2 separate regions of the Homo sapiens genome follow, and region 2 is linked to region 1. The links come from fine-mapping of genetic effects on gene expression. A gene starts in region 1. The other region holds a variant in brackets. All regions are shown on one strand. Distances are from middle to middle. Region 1 holds the start of SYT17 (synaptotagmin 17). Region 2 overlaps SYT17 (synaptotagmin 17).

Region 1 (15,674 bases):
TGGAACATCCTTTGGGGTAGGGGGCCGCGGGTGCAGCCTGGCTGGTGGTGGGCATCGTCCTAGGTAGGAAGTGTGTGCACATCACCAAAATGATGTCCCAGCATGCTAAGGTCAAGGTCAAAGTTTAGACCACCTGCATCAGCATCTCTAGGGAAGCTCGTTAGGAAATGCAAATCCCCAAACCTCACTTCTAAATCTACTGCATCACAATCTCTGGGTGAGGAGTCTGAAAATAAGGAGTTCCAGAATATAGCACAGCTCCCTACTCTCTATGCACAGTCAAGTTTGATGAATGGCTGTCCTCCTGTCTGATGTGTTGTTCTGTCTTTTCAACCTTTCTTTCTTGTTTTTTTTTTTTTTTTTGACAGGGTCTCACTCTGTTACCCAAGCTGGAGTGCAGTGGCACAATCTTGGCTCACTGCAGCCTCAACCTCCCAGGCTCAAGTAATCCTCCCACCTCAGCCTCCCAAGTTGCTGGGAAAACAGGTGCACACCACCACACCCGGCTAATTTCGTATTTTTTGTAGAGACAGAATTTCATTATGTTGCCCAGGCTGGTCTTGAACTTCTGGGCTCAAGTGATCTATCTGCCTCCGCCTTCCAAAGTGCTGGGATTACAGGTGTGAGCCACAAAGAAAACAAGAAAATTGTTCAGAGAAAATAAAGTACCAGTATAATGGCTAGTAATAATATAACCTGTCTGTGTGATGTGTTTATATTTTCAAAATAACAAATAGTACTAGCTAGCATTTATTGAGTAAATAAATGGTAGCAGGCGCTGTGCTAAGGGATAAATCTAGATTGGCCCACTCAATCTTTACTTCCACTAAACGGTGGCTGTTATTATCCTGTTCACTGAGGAGGAAGCTGAGCCACACAGAGAAGCATGTCCAAGGTCACACAGCTAGTAAGTGGCAGGCTGACTCCGAAGTCCAGGATTTTAACTTCCATGTTATCCCTTCTTCCTCCCTAACATGATCTTCTCTTCCAACTATAAAATAAAAAAAAGAGGGGGCCAGGTATATCAGCTCATGCCTGTAATCCCAACACTTTGGGAGACCGAGGCAGGAGAATCGCTTGAGCCCAGGAGTTCGAGACCAGCCTGGGCAACATAGCAAGGCCTCATCTCTGCAAAAAAAACTGAAAATTAGCCAGGCATGGTGGCGTGTGCTTGTAGTCTGAACTACTTGAGAGACTGATATGGGAGGATCACTTGAGCCCTGGAGATCAAGGCTATAGTGAGTTGTGACTGTACCACTGCACTCCAGCCTGGGTGACAGAGTGAGACCCTGTCTTGAAAAGAAAAGAAAATGAAAAGAAATAAAAATAAACTTATGCTTTTAAGCAGAAGAAACAGAGAACTACTACTCGTGAACTACATGTCAGTGTTTCAAGTATATTTTCCTCTTTTGCTTTATCTTTCACCAGCCTGGTAGGGGAGTATACCCATTCTGCAGATGAGGAAAACTGAGGCTCACAGAGGTGAAGTGACTTACTTGAGGTCACACAGCTATCACGTAAGCAAGGCTGGACTAGAAGTTGGATTTTTTTTTTTTTTTTTTGAGACGGAGTCTTGCTCTGTCACCAGGCTAGAGTGCAGTGGAGCGATCTGGGCTCACTGCAATCTCCGCCTCCCGGGTTCAAGTGATTTCCCTGCCTCAGCCTCCTGAGTAGCTGGGACTACAGGTGTGCACCACCATACCCAGCTAATTTTCTGTATTTTGGTAGAGACGGGGTTTCACCATGTTGGCCAGGATGGTCTTGATCTCCTAACCTCGTGATCTGCCCACCTCGGCCTCCCAAAGTGCTGGGATTACAGGCATGCGCCACGGCGCCTGGCCCAAGTCAGATCTCTTGCTATCAAACCACACAGCCCGTGGGGAGGATGGAGATGAAAGGAGTCGGACTTCCATGTGGGGTTACTTGGTTATGTCTGCTCTTGGGATCATAGTTAACAAGAGGCTGCCATTCCTATTTCAGACTAAGCTATTTAATTAGCCTGGGGCCTTCTTACTTTCCTGGCATTCAAAAACACTGCCCAGGGTTACAGGTATAGCTAAAATAAGATCTGAATAGCATGTTTGGGAAGCTGTATAATTAAAACTGACTTAGGAGACAAGTGCCATCAGCCTGTATTGCAGAAATAGAAAGTCACCTAACCAGAATCTGTGTTGTTCGTATGGATGCGAGGGGCTGCTTTTGCAATTCTGGTGCTTTTTAATTATAATAGGTATTTTCAGGACCGTAGTTTGCTTTGGCACCTCTAACTACCTATCTAAGGATCCTGAAGAGAAGACCATTATTATATGCTTGTCTCTGCCATCCAGGGCTGGGTGGGTGGGTGTTCAAGGGAAGAAGGTGAAAGGCCTGGTTCCTTTTAGAAGCTGGAGATAAAAATGAGCCCCTGGATACCTTCAGGAAGTGACGGAGGCCTCATTCCCTGCTCATCAGCTCTGAATGTCATTCTGTGTTAAGAGGGGTTGAATTCCAGAACCATCTAAACTTCCCATTGCACATCTCTGCCTGAGTGTTCCAATGTGATCTCATCGTGGCCATGTTTTTTGTTTTTGTCTCCCAGCAGCTGTTCTTAGAGAACTAACTCCTCCCCTCTCTGCAGCCCTTGTGGGATCACAGCTCATGGTGCTCACACATCCCTGTCCACCTGGTCACTTGGTCCAGGCCAACTGAAGCAGAGTACAGGGTCCTCTGGACAACAATAGGCATGAGACCTAAGTAGGGCCCGAAGTTTTCCATTAGATTTGGTATAAATATCTCTTTTCTTGCCGGGCACAGTGGTTCATGCCTGTAATCCCAGTGCTTTGGGAGGTTAAGGTGGGAGGATTGCTTGAGGCCAGGAGTTTGAGACCAGCCTCAGCAACATAGCGAGACTCCATGACTACAAAATAAAAATTTTAAATTAGCCAGGTGTGGTGGCAGCACCTATAATCCCAGCTACCCAGGAGGCTGAGGCGGGAGGATTGCCTGAGCCCAGGAGTTGGAGGCGGCAGTGAGCCATGATTGCATCACTGCACTCTAGCCTGGGCAACAGAGTGAGACTCTGCCTCAAAAAAAAAAAAAAAAAAGGAGTCTCTGGGCAGATCACCTGAGGTCAGGAGTTCGAGACCAGCCTGCCCAACGTGGTGAATCCTCGTCTGTACTGAAAATACAAAAATTAGCCAGGCATGGTGGCACAAGCCTGTAATCCCAGCTACTTGGGGGGTGAAGGCAGGAGAATTGCTTGAATCTGGGAGGTGGAGGTTGCAGTGAGCTGAGGTCATGCCACTGCACTCCAGCCTGGGCAACAGAGCAAGACTCTATCTCAAAAAAAAAAAAAAGTCTTTTCTTTTTGGAGCATAAACTGTAAGAATATAAACTTAAGATCACTAGTGGCCATTTCCTGCCATGTAAAGCAAACCTACTCTAGGAAGAAAATATAAAAACCCTGATTTTCAGAGAGATGCTGTAAAGAGGTGGGATATATATATAGAGAGTGAGCTCTTATGACTTCAGTTGCATCCCTATTTCCAGCCATGCCCACAGGATTTGCTCTTGGACTTTCCAGTTAATGAGCCCATAAATACTTTTCTGCCCAAGTTGGATTGAATTGGACTTCTTCCAGGAACCCTAGATAATACATATCTGAGACTCATATCCAGACACAAACTCCTCCTCCTCCTGCAGCACACCTGCATCTCTCTAGCCTTCCTTGCCTTCCATGACCTCATCACCTCTCACTCTGGTACTGCCATTGGCTCACTGCCATTATCTTGGTTCAGACTCGCATTACTTCTCACCTAGATTGTTGCAACCATCTCCTCACTGGCCTCCCTGCCTCCAGGCTTGTCTGCTCCATGTCCAAAGACAGCCAGGTGGACAGACAGACAGACATGCACACAGCCCTGCCAAAATCTTTCTGATCACAATCCTCTCTGCTTTTCCATGGGGTAACTTAGGAGGCCGCCTGACATGTGGCATCTGCTACCTGTGGAGCCACACCTGGCACCCACCTCTCCCTAGTTCCCATTCTCACCTCTAAGCTAATGCAGAAGCTACCTTCAGGGCTTTCTTACTACTTTCTGTGTCATGAAACCCTGGGCAGTCCATCAAAGCCTATAGAGCCCTCTTGGAATAATGTTTTTAGAATCGTAGAATAGAATACATAGATTGATAATGAAATTATAATGAACACTGATATACAGTTATCAAAATATTTAAACAAATTTAAATATGGTCATGTCTTTGCTTCTTTGTTAACACATTAAATAGACAATTTAGAGGTGGGCCTAATAACTATTTGTAATTTTCAAGCAGTAAAGAACATAAATGAAATTTCAAGTCATTTGCAACAACTGCAAGTGTAATGAGATAGACTACACATGATCTTTGTTGGTGACAAAGTCCTGAGTAAGTGCTAAGCTTGTTTTGGTTGGTTGCCTGCAGTCATAATGGAAGGAAACACTAAATTTCAGAAGGAGGTTGGTGACAATGGTGATGCAACTTTTTTTCTTTCTAAGTTCATGGACCTTCCAAATAAGCCCCACTCCCCATCTTTGGTTCTTTGGGACTCAGCTTAATGTCAGCCCCTCTGGGAAACCTTCTGTGATCCTTCATCACACGAGGTTGGGGCCCCTCACCTGTAACCCCACAGTCCCCTGAGCCTCCCTTTATCACACCACAGGTCACATATAATTCCATGCATTTGTCTACCTCCCTGATTGGGGCCTTCTTCATTGAGATCTGTAAAGGTGCCAGCTTTGCAGGCACAGCCTTGATCTGAGTCCAAGTTACATTGAAAAGCTGGACTTCATGTCCCCGTGAAAGGCAGGAGAGGCTTGCAAAGCAGTGGGATCCTGGAACTCATTGACACTCCCCTGATGAAGGACTTAAACTGATTTCTCGTCCATTCTTTCATCTGACGATGGTGCAGCCATGATGAGTTGAGACTTTATTGCTAACCAGACCTGCATTTTTGTCCTGTCCCTGTCTCTTGTCACCTGTTTACCTTGGGCAACTCACTTTGCTTCTCGTCTCAGGATTTCAGTTTCCTCACCCGTAAACTGGGGACCATGACAGTACCCACCTTGTAAGGCTCCAGTAGGGATGAAACAAAAACAAATGTGAAGGGCTTAACACTCAATCATAATAACCAGTTGTCTGAGAGTTGAAAGTGTCCATGTTAGCTGTTGTTGCAACCCATTTGCTCATTCAACAAGCATTTATCAAACACCTATTTTGCCAGGTGCTTTGCATACATTTAAAGCATTTCATAATACCAGAGGCAGGTTCTATTATCCGCATTTTAAATAACCTCTTCTTTTGCTCGAGAGGTGCTTAGTATTCTTGGACAGTTTCAGGTCATAAGGGATTAAGGTACCAAAAAATTCTGGGGACGGGGTCATCCCCCTCCTCCAAGATCAGGCATTATTAGGCAACATGGTGCAGGGGCTAGGGAAAGGATTCAGGTTTAGGTTTGAATCCCAGCTCCTGGAAGCCACACACACCCTGCAGGGCAGACACATTTGACGGCAATAATTGAACTTAGCTTACCCTGCGAACGACCCTATGGTCTAAGAAGAATGTGTATTCACAGTTCAGAGCTAAGGAATCCGGGAGTGGCCAACCTGGAGATTCACTCCTTATCTATGAAGGATGTCTGGGTCCCCTGCCTATCCCTTGGAATGCAGGCTGTACAGGCAATTGAGGCCCTTGGTTTTGGGTTAAAGAGCCAAAACCCTTGGTTAAAGGGCCAAAAGGAAGTTGCTTAGATAGAAGGTGCTAAGCGAAAATGCTATATAAACTGCATGCTTTTTATATAAACATGTTTTTTATATAAACAATCGAGGCCCTTTGTTTTGGGTTAAAGGGCCAAAAGGAAGTTGCTAGGTGGAGGGTGCTAAGTGAAAATGCTACATAAACTGCATGCTTTTATATAAACAGTAGAGGTTCTCCTGTCCAGCCAGCTGCCACTGGATTGTCCCTGTATGTAAGTTCCCTCAATAAACCCTGTGTCTCGTTCACTGTCTCTAGGTCTCTTTTTTGGCCTCCTGGACATGGTACTATTCCTAAAGGAGTTAACAGTGGCCTGGCATGACACGCCTTGGGCAAATGACTTCATCTCTTTTTTTTTTTTTCGAGATGGGGTCTTACTCTGTCATGTAGGCTAGAGTGCAGTGGTGTGATCTCAGCTCACTATAGCCTCAATCTCCTGGGCTCAAGCGATTCTCCAGCCTCAGTCTCCCAAGTAGCTGGGACTACAGGTGTGAGCCACCAATGCCGGGCTAATTTTTGTATTTTGTAAAGAAACTTTTTGTAGGCTGGTCTTGAACTCCTGGCCTCAAGTGATCCACCCACTTTGGCCTCCCAAAGTGCTGGGATTACAGGCATGAGCCACCATGCCTGGCCAACTTCACCTCTTAATGCCTCTTTTTTTCTCACCTAAAGAGTGGGATAGTACTTGTGCCTACCTCATGGTAATCAGAGAATTAAAAGATCAAAATTTGTGTAAAGGGCTGAAAACAGTGCCTGGTACACAGACCTCAAAAAGGGTTAACTTTTTTTTTTTGAGATGGTATCTCATTCTGTCACCCAGGCTGGAGTGCAGTGGCACGATCTCAGCTCACTGCAACCTCCGCCTCCCAGGTTCAAGTGATTCTCCTAGCCTCAGCCTCCTGAGTAGTTGGGATTACAGGCACCTGCCACCATGCCCGGCTATTTTTTGTATTTTTAGTAGAGACGGAGTTTCGCCATGTTGGCCAGGCTGATCTCGAACTCCTGACCTCAGGTGAAAAAGGGTTAACTATTTTTACTTATGGGAACACCTAGCAAATTCCTCGAACTCCCTCAAGTGCCCCCAAGGAGCACCCGTTCCAATAGGCATCCTCCTCTGTGAGGCTCACTCCCCACCTGGCATGCCTTGCCATCAGTGCTGGAGAAAGATTGTGGATAAATACCACAAAGTGGTTAGGAGTGGCCACTTTGGGTTCACTGCTGGACTTGTGGGTTCAAATGTCAGTGCCCTGGGCTACCAGCTGTCAGGCCTTCATAGAGGCTTTACCTGTCTGGGCTGCAGTCCCTCATAAATTGGAGATAATCATAGCACCTCCCTCAGGAAGCAGAGTGAATAAGGCAACAAAAACAATTACTGAGTGCCTACTCTGGCTGGACAGGTGCTACCTAATAGGAGTGATCAAGGTACTGCAGGTTGAAATGAAATAACGCTTGTGAAGTGTTGAGGCGTGTATGCCTGCAGAATCATAAGCACTCAATATGCGTTACGTGCTATATGCTACAAACTAAATATATCATACTAAAAAATGTATAGGTCTGCTAGATTTTTAGACAAAAAATATATGCATCTGAATATCCATCTTTTGTTACTCCCATATTCATTTTCTCATTTATTCCCACAAATCAGCCCTGGAGGATAGGCAGGGTGGAGATTTTCTCCTGTTTTTACTGAGGAAAAAGAGGCACTGGGAGGTTAAAATTAAAATGCTGATAAGCTGGTGTCCGGCAACAGGAGATGACTGGGCATATTAAAAAGAAAACCGGCCCGGCGCAGTGGCTCACGCCCCTAATCCCAGCACTTTGGGAGGCCGAGGCAGGCAGATCACTTGAGGCCAGGAGTTCGAGACCAGCCTGGCCCACATGGTGAAACCCTTTCTCTACCAAAAATACAAAAATTAGTGGGCGTGGTGGCATGTGCCTGTAGTCCCAGCTACTCGGGAGGCTGAGACACGAGAATCCCTTGAACCTGGGAGGCGGAGGTTTCAGTGAGCCAAGATTACCCCAGTGCACTCCAGCCTGGGTGACAGAGTGACACCCTGTGTCAAAAATAAAATAAAATAAAATAAAATAAAATAAAATAAAATAAAATAAAATAAAATAAAATAAAATAAGAAATCCAGCGGAGGGCAATGTTCCACCTCGAATCTCTGAGTGGAGAGCCAGAGGCCTTGGGCTGGGAGGTTTGATGGAGGCCTCTGGGTCCAGGGCGCCCCAGCCACGAGGACAGGCAGGAGGGCGGCGGTGGACACGCCCCGGGGCGCACGCTCGCTGGCGGCCGCCTGCCCGTGGGCAGAGGAGCGCACGAGGCCGGGCACGACGCTGGGTGGCGCTGCCGGGCCGCCCCGCGCTAGACCTGTTGCGTCCAGGGCGCAACTCCGGCAGGTTTAGGGTAAAGGGGCGCTCCGCTCTCTCCGCGCGCCCCCTGCAGCCCTGGACGCAGCACCTCCGTTTGGGACGCCCTACGCCCACCTTAACTTGAGGCTCCCATCCACGCAGCCTCTGCAAGCCTCACCGCAACCGTGCTAGGCGCGTCGGGTGGGGCGGGAATAAAGTTTTTCCAACCCAGTTTGGGGAGAGGGCTGGATGGGAAGGACCCTCCCTGCTGCAGACTTCATGGCAGGCTGCACTGTGTCCCCTCGGCTCCACGGCTGCCCCGGGGGCGCTGCTTTCGGTAGGTGCCAGCCCCCGTGCCAGCAGGATGGGCTGACCTGTGTACCGCCCCCTCCCACCCCCTTCCCCATTCCCATCCCCTCCCCCGCCTCCTGCGCGCTCCGGCCCCGGCGTCTCCGGCCCCGCCTGCGCTGGGGTCGCTGCAGTCCCCGCAGCTGCCCCGGGCTGCTTGCCCAGGCGCCCCGGCCTTATTCCAGCCTGGGGAGCGCCTCGGTGGGGAGCACGGGACAGCGAGGGAGGCCGAGGCGGGGGCCCTGGGCGCCCGATATCTCCGAACCGGGGAGGCGGCCCCGATTCCGAGAGCCGGAACGCAGGGAAAGGCAAGGACGGGGCGGCCGGCGGAGGGGCGGGCGCCGCTCATCAGCCACGCCAGTCACGTCTGGGGCCACCGGCTGCCTTTTTCTTCCTTTCCCCCTTTGCTTTCTTCCCCCTCCGCTGTTGGCGAGGGCAAAGTGGCCGTGGCGGCGCCATGCCCGGGCCGGAGTGAGTGCGCGCGGGCGAAAATGGCGTACATCCAGGTAGGGCTGAGGCTGGGGGCAAGGTCCGGGGTGCGGGTAGGGGGTGCCGCGCCCCCTCCGGCTGGGAGCGCGCGGAAGGGAGGGCCCACGGCTAGGCTCCCACAAACTTGCTTCGAGAAAAAGGGTGCCCGTGCGCGGGCAACCTGTGCAGCAACAGGGGTGCGCCCCGGGAGGAGAGACTGGGGACCCCCAAACCCCGGGATGGAGGGTCCTATGTGTACTCTGCAACGCGCGCCCTTGCCTCTTGGGGAGGGAATGGGGGGTGGGGCGGACTTTTCTTCTCCCCTGCCCCCTCCCTCTCCTTGGCACCCCACCCCAGGGGAGGGGCCGTGGGGAGGGCGGCCCGGGGCGCGCCAGCCACCCGGCCCGCCAGCTGCCGTTGCCGTGGTGACGGCTCCGGCTAATTGGCCGGCGGAGCGAGCCTGAGGCAGCTGTTCCGACCAGGAGGGACAAGGACGTCGTCTCTCCTGGGCACTGGGTGCTGAGGGGTGGGGGACACCCAGAGGCCAGAGGCGCGCTGGTGAAGAGAAGGGAGCCTGTTACTTTACTCCGCTGCATTGGGGTCTGGGAGATGTGGACCCTCTTCACCTTGAAGAAACGTCCCCCAAGAATCCTTGGGCTGAAATAATTCTGAAATAATTTCTAAGCAGCCTTTTTTGGGGGGAGGGGGCGGAGGGGTGGGCCGGGCTTCTTGGTGAAAAGACCTTTCTCCTCTGCAAGAAGGGAAGTGACCGCAGGTCAGCGCCAAGGTCAAGCAGGCAGACCCGCAGTGAGACCCGTTGAGCTGCTTGCTTCTGGCGCTGGCGCCTCTGAGCTGGGCAGAGAAGCTTACAGACTCCCACGTCCAGGGTGCATCTTGGCTCACATCTTGTCCCCTCAGCCACAGCTGGGGGTGCTGCTGGTCCTCCCATTCCCCTCTGGGTCACATATCCCCTCATCGTGTCCTCAGACGCTTCAGCCTGCCGGGAACTCTGTGCTGTGTCACCTGGCGGAGCCTCTTCCATTCATCTCCTGCCTTAGATTCCCTGAATTGGCTTCCCTTTCGTGGAATCGCCAGTTTCTCTTCAAGTTCAATGAAGGTCACATTACTGTCCACCCACTGTGTGCTGAATGTTGTCCAGGGGCTATTGAGTAGTCGCCCAACAAACACTTGGGCGACCGCCTACTAAGTGCTGGCACTGGGGATACAGTGATGAAAACAGCACAGTTCCTGCCCCTCTGGGTGCGCAATTTAGTGAGAAATGAACATGATTACCGGCTCCTGGAGTTCTTAATGGCCGCCTTCAGCACAGAGAAATTAAGTGACTTGCCCAAGGCCACATAGCTGCTTAGGGGTCAAGGTGGGATCTCAAGAGGGGACTGTGGTAGATATGTTAAGCATCTCATATGGCGATGACCCAGTGATGTTGGTTTTCCTTCTAGAACAAGGTGTTAAACTTTGTTGTCCTGTAAAGTGCCAGATACTATTTTTTTTCTCTTGGAGGCTCACATGGTCTCTGTCACAACTATTCCACTCTGACTATAGCACCAAAACTGCTATGGACAGTAGTAAATGAGTGGGCGTGGCTGTGTTCCAATAAAACTTTATTTGCAGGCACCAAAATTTGAATTTTGTATACTTTGCACGAGTCAAGAGGCATTCATCTTTTTTTTTTTTCAACCTTTTAAAAACTCACAAATTATTCTTAGCTCAAGGGCTGTAGCAAAACAGGCTGCGGGGCTGGTTTTGATCTGCGAGCCTTAGTTTGCCAACCTCTGTTTAGAATGCATGGGTTGTCTTTCTTCCTCTTTCTTTCTGGTGTGAATTGGTTCTCTTCCATCGGTGTCAAACACGTGAGCCCAGGAGACCCAATGCCAGAAAGACTCAGCATGCCTGGGAATGTCAGGGCACCCTCTTTCATCTTCTTTGCTTTCTCTCTGCTCCTTGACACTCATCTTGCACCTGGGCTTTGAGAAAGTTGGGGAGGCTGTTTTTCAGCAGGGCCATGAGGTGACCTTGTCTCTGTTCACTTTGGTTTCATAAATGGCCTCTTTTGACCACCACATGTCTAGGAAATGCTTCCCTGTATTCAGAAAATGGTCATAGATTATTATGAAAAAGTATCACTTTATCCTAACATTCTAAAGCACTTTTTCATGCAAGCCCTATGAGGGTATAATATTTTGCTGTTTTGTGCCCTGCTGTACCTGCCGGGACAATACCCAGTGCCTACTGGGTTCCACTAGGTCTTGACAATCACCTAATTCTCATCACAGAAAGGGTGCATTTTATTTTTCAGCTGGACCGCACGCAAGTATTTGCATAGTCAGTGTCCTGTCCCACCTCAACAGCACGCCTTTGAGGTATAGAGTAGCCTTTCCACTAAAGAAGAGGTAACCGAGGCTCAGAGAGGCCCCCTGTCTTGCCCAAGTCACATGATCAGTCGATGGTGAGACTAGGACTCTAGTACTTCCTGGCTCAGCTTGTTGCGTGGCCCCTCAGCACCTTTGGGTCTTGTTCTGTGTATGGTTTGAGTTTTGGCTTTAGAGAGTTTGTGATAAGTGCCTTTGACTATTTCCCAAGCTGTTGCTATTCCCTTACCACTTCGAGGATTTCAATTTTTTCACAAGCCACGTACCACCTATACTATGATGATGATGATGATGATGATGATGATGATGATGATTATGATTATTATTTTAGACAGGGTCTCACTCTGTCGCCCAGGCTGGAGTGCAGTGGTGCGATCTCGGCTCACTGCAACCTCTGCTTCCCAGGTTCAAGTGATTCTCCTGCCTCAGCCTCCCCAGCAGCTGGGATTACAGGCGCCTGCCACCACGCCTGGCTAATTTTTTGTATTTTTAGAAAAGAGGGGGTTTCACCATGTTGGCCAGGCTGGTCTCAAACTCCTGACCTCAGGTGATCCACCCGCCTTGGCCTCCCAAAGTACTGTGATTATAGGCATCAGCCACCACGCCCAGCCCTACCTATGCTATTATTAACTTAATTTTTTTTCTATAAATGGGCTCATTTTTATTTTTACTTTAAAAAAATCATATGAAAAGGAAACATTATGTCACTAATATCATAGGAAACCAAGATCATGTGACATCGCAGAAGGCAACTAGAAGAATAAACCCAATGGGAATAATGCCACATTACTGAATTCTAGGTGGACGTGGCTGTCTCCAAGCCTCTGGACAAGATCTACTTTCTTTGTTTAAAAGAAAGGGGATGGGGGAGGGTGGAAATTGGTAAGTGGTAAAAGATGTTAACATGTAGTGGTACCAAATTGAGACTTTCTCCTCCTTAAAGGAGAATCGGAAAAAAGATAATAACTTTCTCCCTCTTGATTCAAAGTTCTGAGTTTGAGTCCCACCTCAGTTCACCTCTGGGACATGCCCGAGGTTGGGATGCAGTACTTCTAACCTATCTAGCCTACTTGGCCCATTTGGAAAACCACCTTAAAGAGAAGGAGGGAGTCTGTGCCTTGAGAACCCAGGAGACGAAGATGGGGAGGCGGGGTGGGGCCACAACAGGAAGGGAGGACCTCCTTCCTCAAGAGGACCAGATTAGGGCTTCCTTTTTAGTTCCCTCTATTTGTGGGTGGTGATAGGAAACACCCCACCATCACCATTGGAGCAGAATTGGAAGGTAGGGCCTCCGGGAGGGCGGGGGAGCCAAGTAACATCCACTGTGTGCCTGCCTGCATGTTAGCTAATCATGTCCTTTTGGGTTGGCTACATGGCTATTTCTGTATAGGAAGGTTTGCTCTTCTCCTGAAGTGTGGCTGCATTGGATAGCATGACTATCTATCCGCCCGCTCTGATTCATAACAGCATACGGTGCAAATCAAATCGAAATGCTAAAGTTTCCCATTTATTTGGTGTTGGTTAACCAGGAGGCTACCAGCAGCCCTGAAAATAGCAACACCTTGTTAGGATGTTAGGAAGTCAGCTCCCTTCCCAGGATGGTAAGTGGAAATATGCAGGGCTTTTTTTTTTTTTTGTAAAATTTTTTTGAGTTGCTGGAATATTGCTAAACTGGTCTTGTCTCTCTTTCTTTAACCCCTTCGTTCCCTTACGCCCTTGGCTTCATCGTGGATCTTAAAAGGGCAGTTGGAACCATTAAACGAGGTGGGTTCATTTGATGATTTGTTTGGTCTGGTTTCTAATCAAGAAATGCCTGACTTTCATTTTGGAGTCTTATGTGGGGCTGTGGGGATATTGAATATTCAACAATAACCTGGTGTTAATAACGGCACAGTTTCCATTCCTTTCTACCGAAAGGAGATCCCGGTTTTGAAAAGACACCAGTTGACAAGACAAGTTTCCCTCTCCACCCCTACTTATTCCGTTTGATTATCTCTGTCTGTTTCATGTCACCGAGATTTTTTAAAAATATTTTTTCCCCTGCTTTCAAGAAGACACAGTAATATTCATTGTGTTTCGAACATATCGTATAGCCCTTATGATGTTGTATAAACCACCCACATGTCAAGAAAGACGTTCACATAAACTACAAAAGAAAATACCTGCAAATGTTTTGCTTGCTACTAACGGCTCCAGCGAGTTGATGTTTGCTATCTTTGTGCCTGCAGTTGGTAAATAGAAATGGAAAACATTTTGTTCTAAGTGCTGAGCAGCAGAGCCAGAACTCCTGAATGTCTATTTCTCATCCGAGATCGGCTGCTTGTAATTTTGGGTGTTGTTTCTCCTCTTCCTCTTCCCCACCCTGCCCACCTCCCCTCTCCCCCATCCCCCCGCCCACCTCCCCCAATGGCCTCAGGGTTTTCTTTCTAGAATCTCTGGTCTGCTGCTGTGCAGATGGACCTGCCGGCACTGCTGTCAGAAGTGCTACGAGTCCAGCTGTTGCCAGTCAAGTGAGGATGAAGTTGAAATTCTGGGACCTTTCCCTGCTCAGACCCCTCCCTGGCTGTAAGTAAAACTGCTCTGAACTTCTCTGAAATCAATTTCAAGACTTTTCCTTTTTAATGAGAAGGCGGGTTGGGGGTCTGGGCCACGGGAGGGAGGATTTGGGGGCATGAAAGAGAAGCAGGCTGAGTTTCCAGGGACAACTTTGCTGCAGACTGGGGATATGTTCTGTACCCCTCATTTTGTTCGGCAAGCTGGCGAGACCAGCTGGTGGTGTGGTTTTAGTTCACCTAGTGGCACATCGGGCCTTCTGAGATACGAACCGTGTAATGCTAAGCGTGTGGGCGTTTTTAGTCACGTGGAGCGTGGTTCCGAGCAGAAAAGGAGATCTGTGAGCCGAGCCTCTATATTCTTCAGGGGCTGACCGCATTCTGAGGGTTTCCATCCAAGTCAGCGTGACAAGATTCCCTAGCACTTAGCCCAGGGCCTGCACATAGTAAAAGCTCGATAAATATCCATTGCATGGATGGGTAGACGGAATGAACAAACAAGTGCCTTTTTGCTGCTCCGAACAAGAACTTCAGAAACAGGGAAGCAGAAAAGCACCTCCAGGCTCCATCCTGTCCTCCAACGCTGTTTATGTTCTCTCTGGCATCTTTCGTTTTATTTCTAATTTGCTCTCCTCCCGCGCCTGCATACAACATCTCCATCTGCCAGTCGCTCAGATATTTTGGGAACGCAGTTTTGAAGCTTCTCAGCCACGTGCCTGGTCCACCTCTCCGTGACTGAGAGAGGGACGTGGTCAGAGAGCCTGGGTACAGTCAAGAAGGTCGGGGCTGGGAAGGATCAAGAAGTCATCAAGTGAGCTTGTCATGCTTCGGAGGGGCAGGCCCAGAGAGGGAGACAGACAGCGGCCAGGACCCACAGCTGGAGCCTGGCAGAGTGGAAGGAGGCAGCGCTGTTTCAGCTCAGTCCTTGGCCTGAGATTCCAAAAGTCTCTGGTGTCCCATCTTTCCCTCCAAGCTGGGGGCTCATGCCTCAGGCCTCTCATTTTCTCTTCTTAGAAGCAAGTATCAAATATTTCCATAGCAAAATGGTTCTGTATCCAGGCTCTGTGGTCTCAACTACTATTTCGAGTTCTGTGACCTTGGGCAAGTGGTTTGATCTCTGTGTGCCTTGATTTCCCATCTGTGAAATGGGATGATAAAAAGAATAGTATTTCTCTCAGAGTTGTCGAAGGGAGTCAATGAATTTGGAATGTGGAAAAGTAGTTAGGAATGCTTGATACTTTGTTGGTGATCATACATGTAAGTAACTCTGGCTGGGCGCAGTGGCTCATGCCTGTAATCCCAGCATTTTGGGAGGCTGAGGGCAGGCGGATCACTTGAGCTCAGGATTTCGAGACCAGCCTGGGCCACATAGTGAGACCCCCCCCATGCCCCATCTCGACAAAACATCAAAAAATTAGCCGGATGTGGTGATGTGTGCCTGTGGCCCCAGCTACTCTGGAGGCTGAGGTGGGAGGATCGCTTGAGCCTAGGAGGTTGAGGCTACAGTGAGCTGTGATTGCGCCACTGCACTCCAGCCTGGGAAAGAATGAGACCCTGTCTCAAAAATAAATACATAAATAAATAAATGAGATATGCATATAATATGCTTAGCACAGAGCAAAAGTTTTATAAGCATTTATTTCTGTCAGTATTAGGTTTCAATAGAGATTAATTAAACTGATACAAACACAATGTTAAAGAACTCTTCCATTATTCATTATTCATAAGTTGTGGCCTGAATCCTACAGGTGTGTGTAGAGTTGAGATTTTTGGTGAAAGCAACTCATTAATCAAG
Region 2 (15,674 bases), 44 kb after region 1:
AGAAACCAGAATCCTGAGTGGTTCCCTCCGCTGCAGGGACTCTGTCATGGCTCTGTGCCCAATGCAGCACCTTTGCCTGGCACAGGGTGGAGTTTCTGCTGGTAGAATAAACAGCCACGTGTTCACTGAAAGAGGTAAATCTCAGGCTCACAGGAAAGCACGTGGCAGGGATACCTGCCCTGCTGTGGGTGGGCTGCGCATGGGATGGGGGTTGGTGGATGGTCTGGAATGTTCTGTTTACCTGGCACATAGTTTTACCGTGTGGGCAATGGTGCAACATAAGATTGACGGAAGCGGAAGCTGGGGAATGAAAAGCCTCAGGCCAGGCCATGGATCTTAGCGCTTATCCTGAGGGGGATGGGAGCCGTTACAAGACAAAAAATAGGGGAGGCCCTGGTCAGATTTGAATTTGAGGTTGCTGTTTCTGGAGCAGAGTACGAGGTGGACCTAGAGCAGGGATTCTCAGCTTTGGCACTCGTCACACCTTGGGCTGGACCATTCTGTGTTGTAGATGCCGTCCTGTGGGCAGCACCCCTGGCCCCACCCATTAGATGCTAGTAACTCCCTCTCCCCGACTTGTCACCACCCAAAATATCTCCAGACATTGCCACATGCCCCCTGCAGGGCACAATCACCCCCTTGAGAACCACTGATTTGAGAATGTTTGAGAACAGGGCAAGGTGACCTTAGATGTGGTGGGGGAGGGATCCAGGAGTGATTTTGGACAGGCATGGGGGGCTTGGAGGATTTTTTGGAGTTGGAAACGACACGAGGGCAGAGGGTGAGGGAGGTCTCTAGAGCCTCACTCAGCTTTCGGCGTTGAGGTGCTTGCTGGTTAGGGGTGCTGGACAGTGAGACAGGAGGAGCAGGTGAGGATGGGGCAGGGTGGTGCTGATGAGCTAAGTTTGGGGTGCAGGGTGTTGAGGATGAGCACCCCTGAGGAGGCTTCCAGTGGACTTAACTAAAGATCCCTGAGTGATCTCATCTGATGCCGTGGCTTGAAACACCTGTGTTATCAGTATTTCCGGGGCACTTGTGAAACATTCTGATTCCCAGGCCCCTCCCCTGAAGAATCTGATCAAGTAGGCTCTGGGAGGCCCCAGGAATCTGTATTTACAAGCACCCTCAGTGGCTCTGTTGAGGGCAGCTTTGGAAACACTGAACTTAGTTTGCCGCCTGCTGGAGTGGCTGGCTCACGTCTCACTCCTACCCTGGACTGTTGATTTTGCCCCAAATTGCTCCTCCGCCGGTGTTCCCCGTATCCATCAGTGACACCCGCATTTATCCCCAAACCCAGGAGCCATAGCCTACACTCATCAGCAAATCAGGCCAGCCCCATCAACCCCTTCAAACCCTTCTACTCCTACAACCAGGTCCAGGCCACCTTCACTTCTCACCTGCAGTGTTAGGACGCCCCTCATGGGTCTCCCTGCTTCATTCCTTTGCATTGCATTTCTCAACCCAGCAGCCAGGGGAATACAGTAAAATAAATGTCAGTTCATGTCTTACTCCTGCATCTAACCTTCTAATGGCTTCCTGTCTCATTCAACATAAAATCTAAATGAGACTCAGCCCCTGTATCTCCCTCCAACTTTATTTCCCTGGTCAGTGGCCTCCTGGACTCTGCTTCGGCCACATCAACTTTGCTGGGTATCTCAGGCACACCTGGAGTGGCCCTACCTCAGGGCCTTTGCACTACCATGTCTCTCCTTGGAATGCTGTCCCCCCAGATACCTTCATGGCTCCCTCTTTTCTTCACTCAGGTTACCATCTCAGAGAGGCCTTCCTTGACTTTTTTTTTTTTTTCTTTTGAGACAAGGTCTCACTCTGTCACCCAGGCTGGAGTACAGTGGCGTGATCTCAGCTCCCTGCAACCCCTGCCTCCCAGGTTAAAGTGATTCTCGTGCCTCAGCCTCCTGAGTATCTGGGACTACAGGCATGTACCACCACACCCAGCTACTTTTTGTATCTTTGGTATAAAGATACAAAGATACAAAGATACTTTTTGTATCTTTAGTAGAGGCAGCGTTTCACCATGTTGACCAGGCTGGTCTTGAACTCCTGACCTCAAGTGATCCACCGGCCTCGGCCTCCCAAAGTGCTGGGATTATGGGCGTGAGCCACTGCACCCAGCCCCTTGACTTTCCTTTTAAAGAGCAGCCCTATCACTTTCTATCCCCGATGCCAGCTTTGTTTTTCTTCCTAGCACTTAACTGCTATCAGACATTACATATTAATTTCCTTATTATGTTTCTTCCACTTTAATGTGAACTCCAAAAGGAGGGGGATTTTTTTCTGTCTTGTTCCCTAGTGGTACATAATACATGTTCAATAAATATTTATGGAAGGGAAGGAAAAAAAGGAAAGGAGAAAGAGAAAAAAAGAAGGCGTAGGCAGGACTAGAACTCATAAAGAAAGTATATTTGGGTTACATAGTCAGTGTGATAGTAGAAATGACAGGCGTCAAGAAAATTGCCAAAAACACCATATAAAGTAAAGTAAAGGTGACTAGGAGTTGAATTCTGGGGAAAACTACATTTAAGGGCAGGAGAGAAGAAACAAGAACTGTGGAGACCAAGAAATAGAAGCTAGAAGGTAAGAGGAAGAGCAGGAGCGGACAGTGTCATGTGAACAAACGGAAACATTTCAAGAAAGATCAGCCTTCTCCACTAGAACTTCATGGGGTATATATATGGTATGTGTCCTCCTTTTCTTAGGAGGAAAGGAATGAGGCTCAGAGAGGTTCAGCGGCATGGCTGAGGTCACACACTCAGTGTATGTGGGAGAGCTGGGATTGCAATGGAGGTCTGTAACTCTTTGTCTTTTGTCTTAGTCCACCAGAGTGTTAGTTTTCTGGGGCCACTGTAATACACACTGGGTGCCTTAAAACAACAGGAATTTATTCCCTCACAACTCTGGAGGCTTATAGTCCAAATTCAGGGTGTTAGCCGAGTTGATTCCTTGCAGACCTCTACAGGAGAAACCACCCCAGGCCTCTCCTGTGGCTTCTGATGGCTGCCAGCAATCCTGGTACTCCTTGGCTGAGAGATGCATCCCTCCAGCCTCCACCTCTGTCCTCACCTGGCATTCTCCCCTGTGTGTCTTAGTCCATGTTTCTTCTCCCCATTTCATAAATCCAGTCCTATGGGATATAGGGCCCACCCTACTCCTGTACGACCTCATCTTGACTCAATTACATCTGCAAAACTCCTATTTCCAAATAAGGACTGTGGACCCCCATTGCTATAGTTTGGATGTGTTTCCTCTGCCAAACCTGATGTTGAAATGTGATCCCCAATGTTGGAGGTGGGACCTAATGGGAGGTATTGGGTCATGGGAGTGGATCCCTCATGACTGACTAGGTGCCATCCTCATGGTAGTAAGTGAGTTCTTGCTCTGTTAGTTCTGCACAAGAGCTGGTTGTTTAAAAGAGCCTCGTGCCTTCCCCATCTCTCTTGCTTCCTCTCGTGCCCTGTGATCTTTGCACACGACAGCTCCCTTTCCCCTTCTGACAAAAGTAGAAGCAGCCTGAGACCCTCACCAGAAGCAGAGGAGATGCTGGTGCCATGCTTCTTGTACAGCCTGCAGGACCACGAGCCACTTAATCCTCTTTTCTTTATAAATTACCCAGCCTCAGTTATTCTTCTATAGCAATGCAAAATGGACTAAGACAGTCATATTTACAGGTGTATTAGTCTGTTCTCACACTGCTATAAGAAATACCTGAGACTGGGTAATTTATAAAGAAGAGGTTTAATTGACTTACAGTTCTGTAGGCTGCATAGGAAGCATGGCTGGGGAGGCCTCAGGAAACTTACAATCACGGTGGAAGGCAAGGGGGGGAAAGAGATACCTCATATGGCCAGAGCAGGAGGAAGAGACAGAGAATGGGGAGGGGCCACACACTTTTAAACAACCAGATCTCCTGAGAACTCTATCATGAGAACAGCACCAAAGGGGGAAATCCACCTCCATGGTCCAATCACCTCCCACCAGGCCTCACCTCCAACATTGGGGGAAAGTTATGTAAGGTCACTACCCTCAATGAGCTCACAGCTTCGTGGAGCAGAAAGATAGGGAACAAGGTGGCCACTCCCTCAAAAATGAAAATGGGGCCAGGCACAGTGGCTCATACCTGTAATCCTTGGGGAGGCCAGGGCAACAGGATCACTCGAGGCCAGGAGTTCAAGGCTGCGAGCTGTGATCACACCACTGCACTCCAGCTTGGGTGACACAGTGAGACCCCGTCTGTAACAAAACAGGAAAAAAAAGAAAGAAAGAAAGAAAATGGAGCCTTACCTCATAACACAGACCAAAATCAAATCCTGATGGTCAGGAACTGATGAATGGCCAAACTTTAAGTTTTATAAGGAAATAAAGATCTTTATGAGCTTAGTATAGCAAAGCACCTCTTTAAAAAGTCAGAAAATAAAGTATGAACCAATGAAGGCAAAGAGGGATGCATCCTACCACATTAAAATGATGAACTTCTGCTTATCAGGAAACATAGTAAAAAGGATTAAAAGGCAAGCCACAGACTGGGAGGATACGTTTGCTATACACATATATTAGTTTTCTAGGGCTGTTGTAAGAAAATGCCGCAAACTGGTGGCTTGAAGAACATAAATTTACTCTCTGCAATTATTGGAGGTGTATTAGTCCTTCACACTGCTATAAAGAACCACCTGAGACTGGGCACTACTAAGAAAAGAGGTTCCGTTGACTCACCGTTCTGCATGGCTGTGGAGGCCCAGGAAACTTACAATCATGGTGGAAGGTGAAGGGGAAGCAAAGCACGGCTTACATGGCAGCAGGAGAGTGAGGGGGGAAGTGCCACACATTTTTAAACTGTCAGATCTCATGAGAACTCACTCACTGTTATGAGAACAGCATGGGGAAATCCACCCCACAATCCAATCACCTCCCACCAGGTCCCTCCCCTGACATGTGGGGATTAAAATTCCACATGAGATTTGGGTGGGGACAAAGAGCCAAATCATGTCAGGAAGGTGTTGGCAAAGCTATTATCTGTACCAGGCCTCTGTCACAGTGTCTGGTGGTTGGCTGGCAATATTTGGTGTCTATTGGCTTATAGATCTCTGCCTTCATCTTCACGTGGTATTCTCCCTGTGTGCATGTCTAAATGTCCTCTTTTCATCAGGACATCAGTCATTGGATTAAGGCCTACCCTACTCCAGTATAACCTTATCTTATTTAATCACTTCTACAAGGACCTTCTTTTTTTTTTTTTTTTTTTTTTTTTTGAGACAGAGTCTCGCGCTGTCACCCAGGCTGGAGTGCAGTGGTACGATCTTGGCTCACTGCAATCTCTGCCTTTCGGGTTCAAGGGAGCTGGGATTACAGACACCCACCACCACACCTGCCTAATTTTTTGTATTTTTAGTAGAGATGGAGTTTCACCATGTTGGTCAGGCTGGTCTCGAACTTCTGACCTCAAGTGATCTGCCTGCCTCAGCCTCTTAAAGTGATGGGATTACAGGCGCGAGCCACTGCACCCTGCCAGGACATTATTTCTAAATAAGGTCACATTCAGAGATCCTGGGGGTTGGAAATTAAATATGAATTTTGGGGAGGGAAATAATTCAACCCATAAAAACATGTAATTGCTGAATAATAGTATCCATAATACTTAAAGGCCCTTCTAGAAATTAATAAGAGAAAGACAAATACACAATGATCAAAAAGAAATGAGCAGGGTTTTCATAGATGAGAAAGCATAAGTAGCTGATAACACAACAAGGTGCTCACCTCTTTAGCAGTCAGGGAAACCCAGATTAAACCCACAAGATACCCATCAGATGAGACTAATGAAAAGCCTGACAATAACAGACCAATATAATCCAGTGTGAAATGCAGCTTGTCAGCCTCACTGGGGGCTTATGGAGGAAGGGCATTGCACTCACATAGAAAGTCAACATTTCGGCTGGGCGCGGTGGCTCACGCCTGTAATCCCAGCACTTTGGGAGACCGAGGTGGGCGGATCACAAGGTCAGGAGATCGAGACCATCCTGGCTAACATGGTGAAACCCTGTCTTTACTAAAAAATACAAAAAAAAAAAAATTAGCCGGGCGTGGTGGTGGGCGCCTGTAGTCCCAGCTACTCGGGAGGCTGAGGTAGGAGAATGGCGTGAACCCGGGAGGCGGAACTTGCAGTGAGCTGAGATCGTGCCACTGCACTCCAGCCTGGGAGACAGAGCAAGACTCTGTCTCAAAACAAAACAAAACAAAACAAAAACAACAACAACAACAACAAAAAACCCTAAGTATCTAGCAATAGGAAAATGGTTAATATAAGTTACAGTATTTCAGCCTAATGGAATGTTGTATGTGAACATTTATAATGACACTTATAATGTCTAGATAGTCACATGGAAAATGTGTGTGTAATTCTTTTAGTTTTATTATATTTTATTATTTTATTTTTATTAGTACAAATTTATGAGGTACACATGAAATTTTGTTACATATGTAATATATAGTGATAAAGTCATAGTATTTAGGGCTTCTATCATTCTGGTACAATACATTTTTGTTAAATATAGTAACACTACTCTACTATCAAACATTTATTATTATTATTTTTTAATTGAGACGGAGTCTTGCTTGAGGCAGGAGTCCTGAACTCCCGGCTTCAAGTGATCCTGCCACCTTGGCCTCCCGAAGTGCTTGGATTACAAGCGTGAGTCACCGTGCCCAGCCCCAAACATTGAATTTTTTCCTTCTCACTAACTGTATGTTTGTACCCTTTAACCCACTTCTCTTTATCCTCTCCCCTCTGATCTAAGGGTATTTTTTTTTAAAAGGGTATTTTTTTTTAAAGGGTATTTTTTTTTTTTAAATACCCTTTT[T/A]TTTTCTTAAAGGGTATTTCAGAATGTGACTGTATTGTCAATGCAGCTATGCAAATACAGGGTTGAGGTATTGACAAAGACTGGGAAAAAAAGTGAAGAGAAGAAAGAAGAAGAAAGAAAAGGAAGTGAAAGCATTTGATGAAATGTGTAAAGCACTGGCATTGCGGTTGGAGTTTGCTTTTTAAAAAATCCATTTCTATTTTAATGTTGTTTGTGCAGCAGATTAAGAGACAATAGACTTTATCCAACCGGTGAGAGCAAAGGCATAAGGGGGCGCAGAGCAGCTGTGTTTGGGCTTCACTAAAATTTGTGTGCGCACATTTGAAACCCTTTGCTAGGTGAGAGAGAGCGAAAGGACCATAGAGAAGGAGTTCAAAGCAAACCTGTCAGGAGGAGAGCTGGGCTCTTGCTATCTCCAGAAAATGTCTTTTGTCCCAGATGATTTTCTTTGATTTCCTTTTTATTGATTAGAAATTAACTGTGTTGAAAGGCTGCCGGGAGAGAGAATTTTTGTCTGGGTAGAGAGGAGAGAGCTGAGCCACATTTGCCCAAGCCGGCTGCTGGATTCATCTGAGTAATTTACAGATTGTCTATTTTGGTTCTCCCTAGCCCACCCCACGTGGTTCGACCAAATTAAGCGCATCGGGCTCTTACAAGAAAGGAAATGAGGCCTGTTTATTTGTGACATCGCTTCCACAAGGGACGAGGTAGAAGTGGGCCTGTCACCCAGTTCCTTCTCCTGTCTTGGCTTCGATTCTGTGGGGGTTGGATAGGACAGGGGGTGGAACATCGTGCTGACAACCCCTCTCGGCCCGTGGTGTGGCAGCAGCTCAGCCTCTGTGTTGGGGGCTGCACTGCTTGATCTTGGATTTGTTTCTGGTGCTGTGAATATAGTAGTGGACACATGGGCACTTTCTTTGCCTTTATGGAGAAAAAGGTAAGGACCAAGTACCGTGAAGGAAATGACAAGGTGGTGTGATGGGAAATGATGGAGGCAGAGGGGTGTTTTCAACTGAGTGTTAATGGGAAGCTTAGATGAGGAGGTGACTGTTGAGTTGAGATTCCCAGGGAATAGCAAGTTCAAGCCTTGGGGCAGGTACGATCTTGTATTTTTTTTTTTTTTGAGACAGAGTCTCGCTCTGTCGCCGAGGCTGGAGTGCAGTGGCGGGATCTCAGCTCACTGCAAGCTCCGCTCCACCTCCCGGGTTCACGGCATTCCCCTGCCTCAGCCTCCCAAGTAGCTGGGACTACAGGCGCCCGCCACCAAGCCCGGCTAATATTTTTGTATTTTTAGTAGAGACTCGGTTTCACTGTGTTAGCCAGGATGGTCTCGATCTCCTGACCTCGTGATCCGCCCGCCTCAGCCTCCCAAAATGCTGGGATTACAGGTGTGAGCCACCGTGCCTGGCCAATGATCTTGTATTTTTAAAGAATAGAAAGAAGGCAGAGGCGGTTGGTGAGTGAAGTCTCAGAGGTAGGCAGGAATCAAATCATTTGGATCAAATCATTTCGATCCCGTAGATAAATTATTTTAGAGACCATTAGTTCTCAACTGGGTGATTTTTGCCCTCAGTGGACATTTGACGATGTCTGGAGACATTCTGAGACTTTACCACTGGGGAGAGGGGTGATGCCGCTGGCATCCAGTGTGTAGAGGCCAGAGATGCTGCTAAACTTCCTGTAGCGCACAGGACAGCTCCCACAACACAGAATGCTCCAGCCCAAAGTGGCAATAGTGCTGAGGTTGACAAACCCTGTTGTTGACCAGGCTAAGCACTTTGAATTTTATTTTGAGAGATGGAGGGTTTTAAACAGGGAAGTGAGGCCGGGTATGGTGGCTCACACATGTCATCCCAGCACTTTGGGAGGCCAAGGTGGGCAGATCACTTGAGGTCAGGAGTTCGAGACCAGCCTGGCCAGCATGGTAAAACCCTATCTCTACTAAAAATACAAAAATTAGCTGGGCATGGGGGCTCATGCCTGTAATCTCAGCTACTCGGGAGGCTGAGGCACAAGAATCACTTGAACCCAGGAGGCAGAGGCGACAGTGAGCCAAGATTGTGCCAGGGCACTCCAACTTGAGCCACAGAGCGAGATTCCTGTCACAATAAATAAATAAATAAGAAATAAACGGGGAAGTGAGGTAATGGCATGGTTCCGTTTTCTTTTAGAAAACCAGAATATTGGTCTAAATTATTTCAGCTCTGACATTCCAATCTTATCTCACTAAATTTGGATAAGGAAGACTTCACAGAGTTGGAGATCCTACCAGAACAAGCAATCCATTTTCCTTGGGAGGGCTGAACCCACTTCCTAGGAGGATTTTTGTATTTGGTGCTTGGATGTCCACTTTGCAGTGAAAAAGAATGGCTTAAGGAGAAAGAAGAAGGAAGGAAATCTTAGCTGGATCTTTCTGGGCTCTGGATTGTGGCTGGTGCTTTGGCCTCTTCAGATCCAGAGGGGACTGAAGACAGACTCAGTGGAGGCAGTGAATAGACTTTTCTTTCTTCTTAAGAGACAGGGTCTTGCTGTGCCTCCCAGGCTAGAGTGCAGGGGTTCAATCATAGCTTACTAAAGCCTTGTTAGAAACAAATGTGCAGTGTCACAAAGAAAATGAGCACTAAAACAAAGGATTTCCCAGTAAGGCAAAATTTACTTCTGTAGGAAGGTGTTTCTCACAGGTCTAGTCATCATGAGAGTGCACTGAACAAAGGAGGGAAGGGGTTTTTATCCCTAACGTAGCTTGTCCCTGCTACTGTGTCCTGCCTCCACAGGTTGGAGTTGGACCACACAATCTAAGCTGAACCTGGTTGGCTAACTTGGAAAGTGCGGGAATGCGGTTACACTGGCAGGAAGGACAGTTTTGGTGGGAAGAGCTGCTGTGATGGGAGGGGTAATTTACAGAGTGGGTAGTAGATGTAGGCTCTGTAGATAAGGACCAGTGGAAGAGTTGTTTACTGAAACCAAGACAGGGAGGTACAGAGAGCAAGGAAGTTTGGCCTTAAAAGTAGAGAACAAAGAACAAGGAAACTAAACAAGCTAAACCTTTGAAGAGGAGCTTCTCGCATCAGATAGCCTCAAACTCTTGGCTTCAAGCATTCCTCCTGTCTCAGCCTCCTGAGTATCTGGGACCACAGATGCATGCCACCATGCTAAGCTAATTAAAAAATAAAAATAAAGAAAGTTTAGAAATGGAAGGTGGGAAGGTTTTGCTTTGTTGCCCAGGCTGGCCTCAAACTCCTGGCCTCAACCCATCTTCCCACCTCAGCCTCCCGAGTAGTTGGGATTAGAGGCTCAAGCCACTGCACCTGACGAACTGTTCTTATACCAAAAGTTCCAAGTCTTCGGTTCCTGTTAAAATTTTGTTCAGGGTACAGTTATGTATTTAAAAAATCTGAATCAGCCCAAGATTTATAGGCTTAGTTCAGGATTTCTCACCTTTGGCACTAGTGATATTTTGGGCCAGACCATTCCTTGTTGAGGGGGGCTGTCTTGTACCTTGTAGGATGTTTGGCAGCATCCCTGGTCTCTCTCTACCCACTAGATGCCAGTAGCAGACCCTACCCTATTCCCCAGTTATGACAACTAAAACATCTCCAGATGTTGCCAAATGTCCCTGGAGGTGGCAGCAGAGAGGACAAAATTACCCCAGGTTGATGCAAGTTGGATGTCCTAGCACCTCATGGATGTCTGTAAAGATCACCATTAATTTCATGATCTTCCTAAGTGGGGCAAGTTGAGGAGCTGCTGGACTAGATGGTCCTGCTTTCTGTTCCTACATTCTAAGCTCCTTATCAGCTGGCTCCTGGTCAGCTTTTTTTGTTTTGTTTTAAATTAGAGACCATGTGTTGCTCTGTTGCCCAGGCTGGAGTGCAGTGGCACCACCAACATTCACTGCAGCTCCGAACTCCTGGGCTCAATTGATCTTCCCACTTTGACCTCCTAAAGCTCTTGGATTATAGGCATGAGCCACCATGCTTGGCCCTCGTCAGCTTTTAGATGTAGCATCTGATACTTCTAGGGAAGAAGGACTGAGAAGATGCTGGCTCCAGGAACACCCCAGGGACATTTTTGTCCCTAGATTGTTAGAGCCGACATTTATGATGCCCAAGTGAACGATGTTATTCATACGTACAACATATTCTGGGGCAGAGACCCTGAGTGTGATGGCAACTCTCCTTTTCCTCCAGGGCTGGGTTAGGATAAGGCTCTGAGGCCCCCAAGCCCTGAAAATTATGGCGCTGCTCACCATATGTCATTCAAGATAATAATAATTCTCTTTTTTTTTTTTTGAGACAGAGTCTTGCTCTGTTGCCCAGGCTGGTGTGTAGTGGTGCAATCTCAGCTCACTGAAACTTCCGCCTTCTGGGTCAAGGGAGTCTCCCACCTCAGCCTCCTGAGCAACTGGGATTGCAGGCGCCCACCCCACACACAGCTACTTTTTGTATTTCTAGTAGAGACGGGGTTTCACCATGTTGGCCAGACTGATCTCGAACTCCCGACCTCAAGTGATCTGCCTGCCTCGGCCTCCCAAAGTGCTGGGATTACAGGCATGAGCCACCGTGCCCGGACAAAAAGGACTGCTGCAATAATTCTCAAATGTAAATCTCAGCAATGTTCTGATTTCTCAACGGGAACTGCAGTGCTATTTCTGAAATACCAAATTCTTGCCAAAAATTATATTTCTCTTTTTTTAAAATTTATTTGATGTAGAAGTGGGGAGGGCATCATCCACTCCTAAGTGGCCAAGAGCACACACCTGTTCTGAGGGAGAAACCAGTATTGTCTTTAACACTTAACAACAACAACAAACCAGGAATGTAAATGGGTGAAGGTGATGTTGTTTCTAAGGAGAATCCTCACTAATTTATTTCAAACATCCAAATTATTAACCATCTTTGGCTGCTTTATTTTATTTACTTATTTTTAAGATAGGGTCTTTCTCAGTTGCCAAGGATCTATCATAGTTCACTGCAGCCTCAAACCTCTGGGCTCATGCAATCCTCCCACATTTGCCTCTTACATAGTTGGGACCACAGGTACTCACCACCACAGCTGGCTAATTTTTTAATTTTTTTGTAGCAAAGTGGGGCATCTCACCATGTTTACCAGGCTGGTCTTGAACTCCTGGCCTCAAGCAATCCTCCAGCCTTGGCCTCCCAAAGTACTGGGATTACAGACATGAGCTACTGCACCCAGCCAACTTTATTATTAATAATAAGTTACTTGGCCCTTGTATTAGTCTGTTCTCATGCTGCTGATAAAGACATACCTGAGACTAGGCAATTTACAAAAGAAGGAGTTTTAATTAGACTTACAATTCCACGTGGCTGGGGAAGCCTTGCAATCATGGCAGAAGGCAAGGAGAGCAAGTCACGTCTTACATGGATGGCAGCAGGCAAACAGAGAGAACTTGTGCAGGGAAACTCCTCTTTTTAAGACCATCAGATCTCGTGAGACTTATTCACTATCACGGGAACAACATGGGAAAGACTTGCCTCCATGATTCAATTACCTCCCACCAGGCCCCTCCCACTATATGTGGGAATTCAAGATGAGATTTGAGCGGGAACACATCCAAACCATATCAACTTTTATATAATAATATTGATAAATTCAGGATCAGAACACAACAAAGAGTATTGGGGCTTTAGTGAAGGCTTCCCTCATTCTGTTCCATCTGTATGGGGCACCCTTCCCTGCAATATTTGCTGGACTAAATCCTACTTATCAAGGCTTAACTCAAATGCCTCCTCCTCCATGAAGACTTCCTTGACCATGCCCCTCCCAAGAATAGATTGTGCTTCAGTCTGTCTTGGGTTTCATTTATATTGCTGATTAATACTTGAGCCCTACAATTATTTCTTTTTTTTTTTTTTTATTATACTTTAAGTTCTGGGGTACCTGTGCAGAACGTGCAGGTTTGTTACATAGGTATACACATGCCATGGTGGTTTGCTGCACCCATCAACCTGTCATCTACATGAGGTATTTCTCCTCATGCTATCCCTCCCTTAGCCCCCCAACCCCCAACAGATCCTGGTATGTGATATTCCCCTCCCTGTGTCCATGTGTTCTCATTGTTCAGCTCTCACTTATGAGTGAGAACATGCGGTGTTTGGTTTTCTGTTCCTGTGTTAGTTTGCTGAGGATGATGGTTTCCAGCTTCATCCATGTCCCTGCAAAGACATGAACTCATCCTTTTTTATGGCTGCATAGTATTCCATGGTGTATATATGCTACATTTTCTTTATCCTGTCTATCATTGTTGGACATTGGGGTTGGTTCCAAGTCCTTGCTATTGTGAATATTGCCACAATAAACATACATGTGCATGTGTCTTTATAGTAGAATGATTTATAATCCTTGGATATATACCCAGTAATGGGATTGCTGGGTCAAATGGTATTTCTGGCTCTAGATCCTTGATGGATCTCCACACAGTCTTCCACAATGGTTGAACTAATTTACACTCCTGCCAACAGTGTAAAAGCTTTCCTATTTCTTCACATCCTCTCCAGCATCTGCTGTTTCCTGACTTTTTAATGATCGCCATTTTAACTGGTGTAAGATGATATCTCATTGTGGTTTTGATTTGCATTTCTCTAATAACCAGTGATGATGAGCTTTTTTCCATATGTTTGCAATTATTTCTTAATTGAGGTGAAATTCACATAGTATAAATGTAATCATTTTAAATATACAATTCAGTGGCATTTAGTAAATTCTCAGTGGTGTGCAACCATCACCTCTATCTAATTCCAGTTCTGGAATTATGGAATTCCATAATTGGAATGTTCCATATGGAACATTCCCATCACCCAAAGGAGACCCTGTATCCATTAAACAGTCACTCCATATTTCCCCCACCTCCCAGATCCTAGCAATCACTCATCTACTTTCTATCTCTATGGATTTACCTATTCTGGATATTTTATCAATGGAACTGTACAATATGTGATTTTTTGTGTCTGGCTTCTTTCACTTTTTTGAGGTTTGTCTACATTGTATCAATGCTTCATTGTTTTTATGAATGAATAACCTACCATTGCATAGATAGGTGATGTTTTGTTTATCTATCTGTTGATGGACATTTAGGCTGCTTCCACTTTTGTCTATTGTGAATAGTGCTGCTATGAACATCTGCGTACAAGTTTTCATGTGGACATGTTTCCTATTCTCTTAGGTATACACCTAGGAATGGAACTGCTGGGTCATACACCAACCTGTTTACCAAAGCAGCTGCACCAGTTTTCATTACCACCAGCAGTATACAGCGTTCTTGTTTACCACATCCTGGCCAACACTGCTTATGATTTTGTGTGTGTGTGTTTATTATAGCCATCCTAGTGGGTGTGCAGCCCCTGGAATTTTGATTTGTTTTTATATCTTCCTTGCTCTCCACCAATAGATACTGAGTTGCTTGATGTCTGGGATTGCTGCTTAATCACCAGAAACCTTGTGTAAGGGTTAACCATGGGCTGAGTTTGAACCTTGTTCTTTTTGTTTATGATATATGATCTGGAGCAAGTCATGCAGCTCAAGCTCTCTAAGCTTGAATTCTTTCATCTGCAAGATGGAAGCCTCTGGAGTTGTTAAGGAAAAGAAATGCGATTCAGCTTTAGTGCCAGGACAGTGCCAGGACTATGGTGATTTCTCCATAAAGGTTTGCTGTAACAATCATAATCGTGACATCCCCAAGTGCTTGGACCTAGTACCTGTTACATGAGCGTTTATTAAATGAATCAATGAATCCTTTGCTATTGCACAATTAGCCCTCTTTTTTACTTTCTATCAACTGCTCCCCTGACTCCAGACAACAGTTTTACAAATTGATCACTCCCCAGATAAGGCAGACAGAAACAGTGGCCGGATCAATGGGAATGGTTCCCTGGAAAAGTACAACCTGAAATCCCTGTTGTGCATGCTGTGTATGGAGGATGGGATGGGTAGAGAGTACAGCAAGCTTGTATCTGCAAAGGGAAGAAGGAATAAAAGAGCTTTGCTTTCTTAAGATGAAAAACACTCAGTCTTCTTAGAAAAAGGATGACTTCAGGAAGTGCCTTGTTGAAGGTTCGATCAATGGCCCCAGGGGAGGGAAGGAACAATTCTATCCACACTTGAAGGCTGCAGAGGTGGCTTGAGGGGCTCTTAGGTATTGAGGGCCCAGAAGATGGCCTCACCACCTCCTTCCAGTTCTGTGAAGACTGCCAGGATTGGGCAGAGCCCCTGGGATCAACCACTGGGCAGCTTGCCTTGGTTCCTGTAGGCGTCTCTAGAATCCATTCATTCTGCCCACACTGGCCTTCTCTTTGTTCCTTTGAACACACTGACTGAGTGATGCCGGGTTTATTCCTCCCTCCCTCCATCCCAGACCTTGCACATGTTGTTCCCTCTGCCCCATGAGTCCCTATCCCTCTTTCCTCCCTCATTCCTCTTCAAACCTCGCCTCTCAGAGAAACCCTACCCCATCCACCGACTGAAAGGGCAGCTCCCACGCGAACCCCATCCATTCTCTTACACTGCCTAATTTGTCTTGTTTTCCTTTTTCATATTTATTTTATGTTTTTAATGGGAATATTTCCCACATAAAATAATAAAACAAGGCCGGGCGCGGTGGCTCACGCCTGTAATCCCAGCACTTTGGGAGGCCGAGGCGGGTGGATCATGAGGTCAGGAGATCGAGACCATCCTGGCTAACAAGGTGAAACCCCGTCTCTACTAAAAATACAAAAAATTAGCCGGGCGCGGTGGCGGGCGCCTGTAGTCCCAGCTACTGGGGAGGCTGAGGCAGGAGAATGGCGT

The links. PIP is the estimated chance that this variant, and not a neighbour inherited with it, causes the effect.
Region 2: its variant is fine-mapped to the expression of SYT17 in whole blood (TOPMed, PIP 0.98).

What each region holds. Positions count from the first base shown.
Region 1 is chr16:19,159,687-19,175,360 of GRCh38, forward strand. It overlaps SYT17 (synaptotagmin 17), which reads left to right and starts at 8,554. Exons shown (of 8, transcript NM_016524.4): 1 at 8,554-8,975; 2 at 13,074-13,091; 3 at 13,744-13,892. The coding sequence starts at 8,961. RefSeq lists a silencer at 7,950-8,199 and an enhancer at 8,391-9,138.
Region 2 is chr16:19,203,647-19,219,320 of GRCh38, forward strand. All of the region lies in intron 5 of SYT17 (synaptotagmin 17), which reads left to right. Among named protein-coding and RNA genes, the nearest start is that of SYT17, 43 kb to the left of the region's middle. The variant T/A (reference allele first, on the strand shown) is at 6,870.